2 separate regions of the Homo sapiens genome follow, and region 2 is linked to region 1. A link means that fine-mapping ties the variant in region 1 to the expression of a gene that starts in the linked region. Tissue or cell type: tibial nerve. Region 1 holds a variant in brackets; the other region holds the start of a gene. All regions are shown on one strand. Distances are from middle to middle.

Region 1 (4,353 bases):
GCACTTCTCATAGATGGTAGGAGGGAGGCAGTCTTGTTTCAAGTAATACTATTTCTGGGCGATAATCCAAAATGCGCAGTAGGCAGAAGTTAAAAGGAGGCGCTTGCTTTTAGGTTTTAAAAATATATCCCTTAATCCTGGGTGATGATTGACAATCATGATTTAGAGTATGAGGGGCCTCTCTTTAATCCTGCAAGTTTGATGTTATTTGCGTATCTAGTAGGGCTTTTATTCAACTAAAACTAAGTGGAAGCCTGTGCAATTGATGCCGCATTTCAGAATTGATTCTTGGCCTGGTACTCTATTTACAGATTAGTAAGTACACAGGATCTGTCCTCCTCCTCATCTTTTTGAAATTTAAAGGTTCTAAAAGGCACATTTACAATTAAAATATTTATTGCTGTGTAAGAGTATGACCAGGAGATGACTTTTTTCTGTATAATTTAATTTCTTAAGAAGCAGTCTGTAAGATTATATTAATCCTGATTTGATTATCAAATTATGATATTAGCTATTGGTATTTATAAATGATTAAAATGTTGTCATTATTGACTTCATGTGCTTCGGTATAAGTTCTTTGGAGAAATTTTAATGAATTACCTCCAAGTCTCTTGCTCCTATTAGGTTTCTTGCAAAGCTTTTCTAAGGAATAGATCAATGTTAAGCCATTATATTACAATTGTTTTATCAGCTGTGACAATAATTTGATTTAAAATCACACATTAAAATAAAATTAGTTAAATCATAAACTCCAAAACAAGATGTCATTAAGAAAGGAAAATATACAGGAGTGAAAGTTAACAAATTTTACAGCAGAAACAGGAGTAATTTTTTTTGAGGCACTTAAGCACTGCGGTCAATGTCTTTGTCACAGTTCCATTCGACAAAGCGAAATAGACTACATGTGAAGCCCAAGTGTCTTTCCTGTATTCTCATGATGTTTTAAATTATGTAGTTTTTGGAGAATGTTTAAGAAGTTAAATACATTCATTACAGAAAATTTGGAAAGTACAGAAAAGTATGAAAAGAAAATAAACATGACCTTCATTCCCAACAGTCACTATTGGGCATCGTCTTCTATTTTTTTTTCTTATATTTTGTTGCAAGGATTTAGATATAAGGGCTAAAATGTACTTCCCAGGAGACATTCTGGCTGCTAGGAGTGTGTAGAAGCATTCAAAGTGGGTTCCTCTGGAGTCGGGTGAGTGACACAACCTGCTACAGGTTTGGTCTGTATTTTGTAAGCTGCGTCAGCAGAGCTTTCTATGAAAACCCCAGTGATGGGATCCTTTGTGTTTAGAATATATTCTAACCTAATAAGTGCATGTTGATAATACCTCTTTCTGTTAACATTTCAAAAGCCCGTTTTGCTGTAGAATCATGCATTTGATATTTAAAAGCTAATGAATCCAACTGATAGATAGTAGGAAAATTTTATTGATATATTCATTGCAAAATAGTTCTTCAAACCAAATTTTGTTTTTGCCTTTGTACTCATAGTTTCTTGCCAGTAAATGACTGAGTGATTGCTACAGTGAAAACACTACTTGCCTACAGCTTTGCTCAATTAATTCATAAGGACTACATAGGTAATTCATTAAATCTTAATGAAGATTGGATATAGAGGAGTATAGTAGTTGGATCTAAATCTGCAGCTCAAAAATCAAATCCTAACCCCTTAGACTGCCAAATCCAGAGAAAAGTCAAGGCCCTTTCTCTCCAGCCAGCGATGGCTATCATCCTAGAAACCTACACTGTTGCATGGTTTTTCCTCTGCTTGGAATGCTCTTCTCCTACCTACTTCCCACCCTCAGGTCTCGCACTGCAGCAATTCCTTCCAGAAACTGCTCAAGTGTCTCCATGAAGCTTTTGGCTACTGCCTCCTCCCCAAGGTCCTGGCCCCTTCCTCTCCACTGCCAGGGCACTACACACACACAGACACACACACACACACACACACACACACACACACCCGTCCACGCAGCTCTCATCACCTCTAGTTTCCATGATTTGTTTACTGTCTGTCTGCTCCTTACCTGTAGTCTAGTGAGCTCTCACAGTCTAGCACAGCATTAAAAAATGGTTTGTTGACTGAATGACTTACTAAAATAGATGAATAAACAAACGGATGGTTGAATTTGCTCATGAGATAAGGGTACCCACCACCCAGCATGTGTCTAGCACATAGTACACATAGGAGCAATGACCATCTCTGATGTTATTACTTTTACTGAATAGTTATCAGACATTGCATTCAGTGCTTTAATGAGTCACTCATTTATGGTAATCTTACTGCTATCCATATTTTACAGAAGAGGTAACAACCAATAGCTCACAGCGCAGGCATCAAACCCATGCTGTCTCATTCCAAAGCCTATGTACTTGGCAATATTAAATAATCTACTGCCTTTTTCTATAGGAGGCAGTCAATACTTGAATGAATGAGTGGATGAATGCTT[C/T]CCCTCTATGAAAGAAGCTATGGTAAGTAAGAAGTTACAGTAAGCACCTACCACCAGGTGCACAGCAAGTGCTCAATAAATGGCAATGCTATTGGCTTTGTTATTTTATCATACGGTCTCCCTCAGAATGACCAATCCAAATACCATCATTGAAAATAAGACATGGTATTAGGGCTGGATTGAGATATGCAAGCACCAAGTGTGTTGAAAATCATGGTTCAACATTTGTTTAGTGAGGAGTGATCAATACTGGCAAGGATGTTTTGTCTTGCTTTGTTTTGTTTTGTTTTTATTTATTTATTTTTATTTTTTGAGACGCAGTCTTGCTCTGTCGCCCAGGCTAGAGCGCAGTGGTGCGATCTCGTCTCACTGCAAGCTCCGCCTCCCGGGTTCACACCATTCTCCTGCCTCAGCCTCCCGAGTAGCTGGGACTACAGGCGCCCGCCACCACGCCCGGCTAATTTTTTGATATTTTTAGTAGAGACGGGGTTTCACCGTGTTAGCCAGGATGGTCTCAGTCTCCTGACCTCGTGATCCACCCGCCTCGGCCTCCCAAAGTGCTGGGATTACAGGCGTGAGCCACCGCGCCCGGCCTGTTTTCTTTTCTTTTCCCTTCTCCATTTTAATCTCTTCTGAAAGGTGATCTACTTTAGTAGAAATGGAACCATGTTATATTTTGTCCTTTGTGTTAGGATGCATAGACAAAGAACTGAGTTCACTGACAATATATTTCCATGGTTTTTGTTTTTGTTTTGTTTTGGTTTGTTTGTTTGTTTGAGCATTTCTAATATATAAGTGCCACAGGTATTTGTCTGATTGAACCACCCTATAATCTGGCCTTGAATAAAGAATGATATTATGACAAGTGCCACAAAATGTCTCAAATGCCAGTGATCTACTTGGCTCAGAGATTCTTAGCCCTAGTTTTGAATCAGCTCATTTGGGGAATTTAAAAAATCTTCAGATACCCAGCATCCAATCTCAGAGTTTCTGATTAAGGAGAACTGGAGGGTTGTGGTTGACACATGTACTTTAAAGTAGCTCAGTCCTATGAATCGGGATGAGAAGACTGTGTCCAGAACTAAGGAGACAAAGTACATACAGGCCTCTTCTGTGTCTGGCATATAAATATAAATACAAACCTTCCTTACCTTGAAACCCCCTAATTAGGATGGCAGATAGAAAAAGACAGTAAAGATTTATTTCCAGCCTTGTCTGGGGGAGAATGGAATCTGACTGTGACTATGCAAATCATTTGCACAGACCTATTCAGTGGTTTCACAAATTTGGCTTTTTATTGGAATCACCTGTGGTAGTTTAAAAACGAATCCGCAAAAACCATAATCTGAGTTCATGGGCAACACATTTCTGTGGTATTTTTAGCATCCCTAAGATATTGATGCCACGGGCTCCCATCCCTGGTGATTCTGATCCAATTGATTTGGGGTGTGGCCCAGGTATCAGGACTCTTGAAAGCTCCCAGGTGATTCTAATGTGCAGAAGAGTTTAAGAACCACTGGTCTGTTTGAAGAGACTGCATCAGACATGGAATAACTGACTCTGTTTGGCAATTTCCTTTCAACGAAGGTATCCTCTTGGATTGCTCTTTCTGCCACTCTCGAAGCCTAACTCTCAGTAAGCAGACCTCTGTTTCAAAGGCAAGAAGAAGGGAGTGCAGTGAGTACAGCTAAAATGTAGGATTCTCTGGTTTCCTAGAAGTTCTAGATGGGACCTCTGGAAGATTTTGTGGAGGCACTTTTTTGATATGTACCTTTGCTCCATCCTTATTCTCACAAAGAGAGCTCCTGACTTTGTAAGCTAAGGTGTTAGGCTGGCCAAGAGAAGTAGTCCATTTGACAGTCAAAGATCTCAGTAAAACTGAGTACGGCAGGGT
Region 2 (4,154 bases), 82 kb before region 1:
CTGCAGCTCAAAAGCTCAATAGGTACTTGTGGCTAGTGGCTACAGTATTAGCCAGTACAGATTAAGAACATTTCTCCTTTCCATCATCATAGAGAATTCTATTGGACATGCTGCCTTAGATGAACACAAAGTATCATGGATGTTTCTTTAAAATAGTGTTGAGAAATGTGACAAATGTAACATTAGGAAGTGAAGTCTAAAGCACACTTAATTATGTAATTTGAAAAATGCATACAATGAAAAAGAGTAACATCGAAGATGTTAAGAGTTATCTGTCAGTGGGAAGGGAACGGCAGTTAGAAATAGGTAACCAAAGGGAATATAAGTAAAATGAGAGATACTTTGTACGGACTGATGCGCCTGGTAAAACCACGTACTAAAGAATATTATTAATCTCCTGTATTTGAGGTCCAACAACAAATGTTGGGGTTAGTGTCAGCCAGAAATCCTGGGGGGAAATGGTAAACTCCAACTCTGATGCCCTCAGGAACAAAAACTGTTAAGGTTGCAAAGAAGGAATTTTTCATATCCCCATTGCCAACCAATTTTCATTTAAAATTAAAATCTTTTTTTTCTGCCTCAATCTCAATTCTACTATGGTACTACTTCACTATAAGCTTTCTTCAGGGAAGAACGAATTGTGACAAAAAAGAACTATCAATGGCCAGAGAATAAAAGGTGAAATAGACCCACTCGATTGCCACCAACATTTTACAATGAGTTACTGTACAATTCCCTTAACAGAGCTATTTTGATTACACAGGGCAAATTCTAATAGTGGGACCAGATCAACTTAACACAATATATGAAATAGTGAATACATTTTTTTGTGTTTCTATTTTCTTCAACAATTAGGAACTGTAAACTGATGATTTCTACCATTGACACATATTAACAAGATAAAAATAAAAGCCTGGGCGGGGCGCGGTGGCTCCTGCCTGTAATCCCAGCACTTTGAGAGCCAAGGCGGGCGGATCACGAGGTCAGGAGATCAAGACTATCCTGGCTAACACGGTGAAACCCCCTCTCTACCAAAAATACAAAAAATTAGCCGGGCGTGGTGGCGGGTGCCTGTAGTCCCAGCTACTCGGGAGGCTGAGGCAGGAGAACGGCATGAACCCGGGAGGCGGAGCTTGCAGTGAGCGGAGATCGCACCACTGCACTCTAGCCTGGGGAACAGAGCGAGACTCCGTCTCAAAAAAATAAAAACAAAAAAATAAAAGTCTGATATAACTTAGCATGGATTTTTCAGTAGAATAAGTTAAAATGTTCTGGAACGATTTTGTCAATGCATGTTGAAAAATCTGAAAATGTTTAGTGCTCAGTAAATTTTCTACCGTTCCCTTAGTCATCTCCATTTTAATTCTAAGCAGACGGAGGTCATTTTAAAACACAATACTAATAGAAAACATATACCGTAAATAATATGTACCAGTCATCAACTCAATTCTCACAACACTGTAAGGTAGGACTATTAAAATCTCCATTTAACAGACGAAACAGAGGTCTGTTAACTGGCTAGCCCAAGGTCACGCAGCTATTCGTGGCAAACCTGGGCCACGAAGCACCACAAAACTATGCTACTTCATCGATCTTCTGATCCATCATCCCTGAGGATTCAGATTTGCATTTACCTGGAGAATCTCACGGTGCCACAAAGTGGAGTTCCCGGTTCGTGGCTTATGAGCCACACTGCCCGCTGCGCCATGGTTAAGTCAGTAAAGCATTAGCTCATCTCATAATTAAGGTCGCCACCGAGGAACAGCGCAGACCGGCTTTCTCAGACAGACTCTTAACAGAAGCCCTGAGGCTCATCCTGCGCCGCATACCGGTCGCGCTCAGCAGAGAGGTTAGCTTTTTTAGGTGAAGTCACTAACGCTTCTGAGTCGCTCTAGGCCAACACACACCACAAAAAGTTCTAAGAACCCCAACCTATAACCTTGAGAAATTTACCTATACCCTGCAACTCCGGTATTTTCTTCCTCTAAATTCTACTTCCGGAATGGTGGCCCGCAAGGATCAAAGTTCCTCATACACGGTAGCGTCGAGCCTTTTTTCGGTTCTTTCGCCGCTCGTTTTATTCGCCGGCCCCTCCCGACAACCTCCCTGGCGCGCGCAGTTCCACTTCCGGCGTATGAGGCGGTGACAATGGGAGCAGCGCGGGCGGCGCCGGGAGGCAGCTGACAAGCGTTTGCGGCTTCGCTTCATGGCCGCTCTCCCGCCCCTCCTGGGATCTGTGGGGAGCTGGGGAGCCCGCAGCGGCCCGGAGCCGGAGCTGGCGAGCCGAGCGGAGACCTGTGCGCCGCGCCTCTGAGGCGCAGCATGTGAAGCGGAGACGGCATCCAGTGGGGGGCGAGCCTCTCAGCCGGCCGGGATGGCTACCACGGCCGAGCTCTTCGAGGTGGGCCCCGGCGGCTCTACAGGGAGTGGCAGGCCCGGGGTTTGCAGGCAGCTGGGTGGGCGGGCCGAGGAGCGGGCGTTTGCTGGCTGCCCAGGAGGAGCCCTCGGGAGAGAGGTGCGAAACAGAAGGGTTGGGGTGGCAGCTCCGTGTCAGCGCGGGCGGAGCGTGAAATGGGGGAGGGGTGCTTGGGGCCGAGGTGGGCTGGGCGGCCGGTCGGCAGAGAGGGGAAGCCGGGTGTCCCAAGGGAGGAGGGTTGCTTTTGTTTGTGGGGGCAAGAGGGAAAGTCTGGAAGGTTCGGGTGTTGGAAGATGTCTACTCCGGATGAGTAGTGGGAAGGGCTGACTCAGGACGAGGAAAGAGAGCCAGGAGCCTCAGGTTGGGCGAGTCTTGTCGCTGGGGTCCTCGCGGGAATAATAGGAGGAAGCCACTTGAGATCGGGACTCTTGGGGGCTTCTCGTTTTGAGTAATTATTCCATTAGTAAGGTTGCAGGTGGCATTCATAGGACTGCCAGTTTAACCTGACATTTGAAAAGGCTGGGACAATTTTTTTTTTTTTGGACAATAAAGGCCTACTTATCTCTTTCGACTGAAGAGAGATAGACTGAAGGGAGGCAAAATTCAAGTGAACACTTTATTTCATGTAATACATAATAATACACTCGAGGCATTTACGTGTATTATAAAATAAAAAAAGTTTATAAAATAAAACGAACACTTCGTTTCATGTATATAATGCACCTTAAGTGTATTATATGCATTTACATGTATTATAAAATCACCTAACTGCAAGCTAGAGAATCCTTAATATGTAATAGTGAGAATACTAATGTCTTTCCTCGAGCGTTTACAGTATCTAAACCTTAAAATTTAATTTCGTGAAGTCCGTTGTAAGAAGCTGTGATAAAAGTTTGAGATAATAGAATAGGAAAACTCTAATTAGGCTACAAAACAATGACACGTATAAAGCATCTCCTTGTGTGAAAGAAATGAAAACGGATAAGAAAAAGGAAAGAAAGACCCCTTTTTTGTGTGTGTGCTTGTGTTTCACATTGAGTAACAAAAGTGTAATAATTGAGAAGACTGTAATCCACAATAGGGAACTTCTCCATAAGTGAAAATGGTATCCTTTTTCTGCGTAAGATTCAGCAGTTTTTGTGGCTTACAATTTGAATGCCACAGTTTTAATAACAAATGGAAATTTACATTTGTTATTGTTACTATATTTTGCATATCAGTCAGCTTTTGGATAGATAATGCTTTTTTTGAGAGGAGTAATATATGTTATTGTTATAATAAGTTGTAATAAGACAGTAATTTGTGAATGAAGGATTGTAATTACAAGAAAGACTTCAGAGATATTGTATTTTCTCACTTAAGTGTTGGGAGATATGCTACATTAATTTCTGTAATTCCAAAATTGTGCCATCTGTTTATTGACACAAGAACGGGGAGACATTTTTCCTGCTAGGAACTTTTACTGTGTCCCTAGGTACTAAGTAGTGCTGTGGTTCCTTGTTTTATTTTTCACATCTTAAAAAGGGAGAAAACGATGAAGTTGTATGAGATCTTTAATTAAGGTATTTGCCGGCAAGCCAGCTCTTAACTGAAAACTGTTATATATGTTGTCATACAGTTCATAAGACATTATCCTTTGAGTTAATCCTGCTTGACAGTTCCAGTTGTACCTTGGACCATCTTATGTATATTTTTATTTAAATGTTTGACCACATGATTTCAGTAACTTATTTGGAAA

The links. PIP is the estimated chance that this variant, and not a neighbour inherited with it, causes the effect.
Region 2: AP5M1 starts here. The variant in region 1 is fine-mapped to the expression of AP5M1 in tibial nerve (GTEx, PIP above 0.99). The same link has a PIP of 0.9 or more in aorta and transverse colon.

The regions. Positions count from the first base shown.
Region 1 is chr14:57,184,951-57,189,303 of GRCh38, reverse strand. No RefSeq gene overlaps it. Among named protein-coding and RNA genes, the nearest start is that of EXOC5, 82 kb to the left of the region's middle. The variant C/T (reference allele first, on the strand shown) is at 2,460.
Region 2 is chr14:57,266,869-57,271,022 of GRCh38, reverse strand. It overlaps AP5M1 (adaptor related protein complex 5 subunit mu 1), which reads right to left and starts at 2,052. Exons shown (of 8, transcript NM_018229.4): 1 at 1,635-2,052. The coding sequence starts at 1,708. It overlaps EXOC5 (exocyst complex component 5), which reads left to right and starts at 2,118. Exons shown (of 18, transcript NM_006544.4): 1 at 2,118-2,401. The coding sequence starts at 2,375. RefSeq lists enhancers at 1,888-2,087, 1,735-2,318 and a silencer at 2,628-2,687.